2 separate regions of the Homo sapiens genome follow, and region 2 is linked to region 1. The links come from fine-mapping of genetic effects on gene expression. Tissue or cell type: whole blood. Region 1 holds a variant in brackets; the other region holds the start of a gene. All regions are shown on one strand. Distances are from middle to middle.

Evidence for each region. PIP is the estimated chance that this variant, and not a neighbour inherited with it, causes the effect.
Region 2: it holds the start of TRPC1, and the variant in region 1 is fine-mapped to the expression of TRPC1 in whole blood (INTERVAL, PIP 0.97).

The regions. Positions count from the first base shown.
Region 1 is chr3:142,663,936-142,666,700 of GRCh38, forward strand. PLS1 (plastin 1) reads left to right here. Exons shown (of 16, transcript NM_001145319.2): 2 at 267-372. The coding sequence starts at 303. Among named protein-coding and RNA genes, the nearest start is that of PLS1-AS1, 8.5 kb to the left of the region's middle. The variant C/CA (reference allele first, on the strand shown) is at 1,362.
Region 2 is chr3:142,722,781-142,725,545 of GRCh38, forward strand. It overlaps TRPC1 (transient receptor potential cation channel subfamily C member 1), which reads left to right and starts at 1,254. Exons shown (of 13, transcript NM_001251845.2): 1 at 1,254-1,951. The coding sequence starts at 1,780. RefSeq lists a silencer at 1,498-1,547 and an enhancer at 1,806-2,672.

The sequences.
Region 1 (2,765 bases):
TATTAATTCATTAGGCTATTGAGAAATATCTGTGTAAAAGCACAAGGTGAGAAAAATAGGTGTTTCTTCCCCTTACTGAGTCTCAGTTATAGTTTGGCTGGCCTATGCTGAGAGATTGTTACCAGGGGACCTACTCATATTTGTTCTTTGTCAGCCAGATCTCATAGATAATTCCTCCTAGAGAATGTACTTCCTCTGTACCTTATATTGCTTAGTTAAATGTTTCCAAAGGCTTCATGCTTTTTTTATAATATTGCTTTTTCTAGATATAAAGACCTGAAGATAGTCTTTTCTGTCCAAAGATGGAAAACAGTACTACTACCATTTCTCGGGAGGAGCTTGAAGAACTACAAGAGGCATTTAATAAAATAGGTATGCTTGAGAAAAAGTAAATATGATATTACTGGTCTGCTTGATGTCAGACTTCAGGAATGGAAAAATACCTTTTATTTCATCTACCACCACCCAATTACCTCCAGATTTATTCCTTTTTTTCTATCTAGGTTTCACTGGATTCTTTCTTTCTGAAAGATAAGCTACGACTAGCTTGAATTTCTAGGTGAATTGGACTTTGAATTCTTTGATCATTTCTTTGCAGAGAGTAATCCAGGTTAATGAATGACAATGTAACTGAATACACTTTACACGGTATCCTTATTACAGAGAAAAAAATATAAAAATACTTCCTTGTGTATAAACTGAACTCTGGCCTTCACATCTTTGCACTAACAATAACACTTTCTGACTTCATGCAGAATATTTTTAAAATCTCAGTATTGTTTTTAAATGCCATATGTCTTATTTTCCTTCTCCCACATGCATAATTTAGAAAGTCTTAGTATTGTTTTTAAAGGCCGTATGCCTTATTTTTCTTCTTTCACTTTTTATAGCCATTTAGTGTTTTGTCTTTATGACATTATCATTTTGACAGTTTTGTATTTTTCTTCCAAAAAATTTTCCTCATACTCTGTTGGATCTCAATTCTTCTGCAATTTGCTCTTAGGAAACCCATGGTAAACAGGAGAATATAAATACCTTTTTTTTTTTTTGCTTTAGTTTGCAAATGCATGCAAGTGAAAGGTGAACCCAGTGAAAGGTGAGCACAGTGAATAGACATTGGGATAATGACACCACTATGTTTGCCCCTTACTCATCAAGCTCATTCTCTAGTGTAATAGAGCCCTCCATGAAAAACAGTCATATGGTAGATCAGGGAGGAGAAAATGATCACCGCTGGTCTTGTGCTTAGATTTCTCACAAACCTAATAACGACTAAAATTAATGTGAGTAAAATATCATGCAACATGAGTTTTATTGACCAATACAAAGAAAAACGATATGTTTAAAAAAAAAAAGCACTC[C/CA]AAAAAAAAAAAAAACCAAAAAACTGTGAAACTCAGGAAGCTCATGTTTTACAAATCATTACTGTGAAATAAAGTAAACTAAATTCTACAAATCTCTGGGCTCTTCCATTTCTCCCTGGGAATGGCATATTTGTCATTAGAGCATTGTATGAATATGGTATGATTTTCAGAAAACAATCATACATTTTATAGAGAATTGTATGTAGTGTCCAGAATCTTTTCAAAACAAAAACTGGGCAATTGTTGAAATGTTCTGCTCATTCTGAGCATTGAAACAGAGGAAGTAATAAAAATGTATCTCGTAGTTTGATATTTCTGTTATTTTATAGATGCAGTTTTGTAGCTTGAATAAAAGTTCTACCCAGGTCTTGGTAAAATAAATGAATTAGTAATATATTTGCTTTGTTTAGCACAACAACTTTAATCTTTGACTCATGAACATATTAATATAATCTTGCAATATTTATTTAATGATATATTGAATAAACAATTCACTGATGGAACAATTTTTTTTTTTTTAACAAAACCTTGTGTTGAGGGCTGACTTTCAATAGATTGTAGTGAGGGAGCTGCTCTGCTAGGTACAAAACCCCAACCCAGAAGCAGGTCCTTGATGGAACAATTTTGAGAGCAAGATAATTTGTTCTGTTTGAGCAAAGCAGTAACACTAGCAGAATAGGTACTTGCTGACTTTATTTAGGAGGTAAACTGCTACTCTGTGAACTCAGAAACCTCTCTGCTAATTTGTAGCACACTTTTCTCAAGGATAGAGGAACACGGCCATCCAATGTTATTAGATGGAGTATTTGGGGGCCACTGGGGAGAAGGGGGAAGTTGAAATATTTCTCTGTATTGTTTCTTTTTGAAATTGTGGTAAAATATACATAACAGAATTTACCATTTTAACCATTTTTAAGTGTATAGTTCATTAGCATTTAGTACATTCACATTGTTCTACATTCATCACCACCATCCCTTTCCCAAACTGAAACTCCATATCCATTAAACAATAACTCCCAAGCCCCAGGTGACCATCATCCTACTTTCTATATGAGTGTGACTACCCTAGGTACCTCACATAAGTGGAATCACATAATATTTGTCTTCTTGTGACTGGCTTATTTCACTTAGCACAATGTCCTCATCAACAGCTTCATCCATGTTGTAGCCTGTGTCAGAATTTCCTCCCTTTTTAAGGTTGAATAATATTTTATTGTATGTATATGCCACATTTTGCTTATCCATTCATCCACTGATGGCCATTTGGGTTGCTTCCACCTTTTGGCTATTGTGAATAATGCTATGAACATGGGTCTACAAATACCTGTTGAAGTCCCTGCTTTCAATTATTTTGAGTGTAAACATAGTAGCGGAATTGCTACATCATGTGATAATTCCATATGT
Region 2 (2,765 bases), 59 kb after region 1:
ATCAGGGAATTCCAAGTCAAAACTGCTATGCCGTATGTACCACCCTACTTCCGCAAGAATGGCCATAATCAAAAAAATCAAAAAATAATAGCTGTTGGTGTGGATGCGGTGAAAAGGGAACACTTCTACATTACTGGTGGGACTGTAAACTAGTACACCACTATGGAAAACAGTGTGGAGATTCCTTAGAGAACTAAAAGTAGAACTACCATTTGATCCAGTAATCCCACTACTGGGTATCTACCCAGAGGAAAAGAAGTCATTACACGAAAAAGATACTTGCCCATGCATATTTATAGCAGCACAATTCGCAATTGCAAAAATGTGGAGCCAACCCAAATGCCCATGAATCAATGAGTGGATAAAGAAACTGTGATATATATATATATATATATATATGTGGTATATATATATGTGATATATATATAATGATGGAATACTACTCAGCCATAAAAAGGAATGAATAAATGGCATTCGCAGAAACCTGGATGGGACTGGAGACTATTATTCTTATTCTAAATGAAGTAACTCAGGAATGGAAAACCAAACATCGTATGTTCTCACTCACAAGTGAGAGCTAAGCTTTGAGGATGCAAAGGCATAGGAATGACACAATGGACTTTCGGGACTCGGGGAAAGGTTGGGAAGGGGGAGAGGGATAAAAGACTACAAAATTAGGTTCAGTGTATACTGCTCGATGATGGGTACATCAAAATCTCACAAATCATCACTAAAGAACTTACTCATGTAACCAAACACCACCTGTTCCTCAAAAACCTATGGAAATAATATGGAAATAAAAATTTATATATTTGTATAAATTATTTAAACATAATATAATTATATATCTATATATCCTTTATAAATGAGAGTTCATTTCCAGCCTAAAATGAGTACAACATACAAACCCACGAGTCTGGCTCTCCATTGTGCTTTAAAGCATAGTGCACCAGAATATGAAATAGCTGGACAATTCCACAAAGGATTTCGACTAAACATTAAGTCGTCAGAGACTCAATTAACATACTGCTCCATATTTGCTTAATTACCTTAAACCAGTACCCTGGGTGTGGAAAGGGACGATTGAGCGAAGTCTTCCTCAGACTGCGGTTCACCTCACCAGAGCGAAGGAAGCTGCAGCGGGCTCCAGGAGCCCAGTGCGTCCCCACCGCAGGCCCCACCCACCCACGCCCCGCTTGCCGCAGGCCCCGCCCACCCAAGCCCGCCCTTGCCGCAGGCTCCTCCCTAGTGTCGTCGCTACAGAGGAGCAGAGGATGACGTGAGGACAGAGTCGCGAACATCTCCTCGGAGCGCAGCTGGGCCAGCGGTTCCCACAGCCCTGGAGCCCAACGTGCGCAGAAGCGCCTCTTGGAGCTCCTCTCCCACAGATCTCTCGTCCTCTTCCTGGGCTAGGCCGCCCCAGGCGCGGCCCCTGCGACTCCTGGCACGGCCCCGTGCTCGGCTGCCGCCCTGGCGCGCGCCACACTGTCGTCCCCGGACGGGCGCGGACCGGCTCGGCCGGGGCGCCGGCGGCTGGGGAGGGGTCGCTGGCCCCGGGGCCGCGCATGCGCCGCCACCAACTTGGGGCTGTCAGTGGAGGGCGAGTGCTGGTTCTCAGGGGAGGCGACGCCCTTCGGGGCCAACGGGCCTCGAGCCGAGGCAGCAGTGGGAACGACTCATCCTTTTTCCAGCCCTGGGGCGTGGCTGGGGTCGGGGTCGGGGTCGGGGCCGGTGGGGGCCCCGCCCCCGTCTCCTGGCCTGCCCCCTTCATGGGCCGCGATGATGGCGGCCCTGTACCCGAGCACGGACCTCTCGGGCGCCTCCTCCTCCTCCCTGCCTTCCTCTCCATCCTCTTCCTCGCCGAACGAGGTGATGGCGCTGAAGGATGTGCGGGAGGTGAAGGAGGAGAATACGCTGAATGAGAAGCTTTTCTTGCTGGCGTGCGACAAGGGTGAGAGTTAGGCCCCTTTCTCCTCTGGACGCCCCTGTCCTCCAGACCTTTAGTCCTCTCCCCCGCCTCAACTTATATCGGGGCATTCCCTCTGTCTCAGGCGCCGAGTGTCTTCCCGCCTCGCCTGCTGCCTCAGGCGGTCTTCTCCTCACCGCCTCTGCCCTGTGAGTGTGGAGCTGGCGGGAGAGTGGAGCTGGGGCTGCGCCCTCGGAGCGCTGCACCGTCGGGGGTGGCTCTGGCCTTGGGGTCCGGGGTTTAGGTAGCGCCTTGGGAGCCCCGACCCCAGCGTTTTAGCGCCGCCCTTGCTACTGACCGCATGAATGACCTGGTCTTCTCTCTGGCTCGCAGTTCATTCCTTCCGGGAGTCGAGAGGCTAGTTTCCGACACTCCAGTCGGAAAATTCCGTCACCTTACCTTAGGATGCCTCGTATGGAGGGTTCTCATCACCTGGTTTTTGTTTTTCTTAAAAACAAAACCAGACCCTCTATTATTTAGCTTCACCTGACCAGTGCTTTAGCCAGTGACTGTTGACTGGCATTAATAACGGAATATCCTAGGTGGAGATACATGAAGTAAGGACGGGACGGAAGAAATTCTGCCTTAGTTGCCAAAACTTTCTCTGGATTTACGGAACGCCTTTGATTGTTAGTGCTTTTTATTGGAGAGAAAGATTTATTGCTCCCAGATCTTTCTTTGGGAGATAAAGATAGTGAAAAATAATTACAGGAATTACAAGGCAAAAATATGTGGAATATATTTAGCGCGTTATCCTTTTTTTAGTCTAGAAGTTAATCATTTTTATGGCCATATTAAG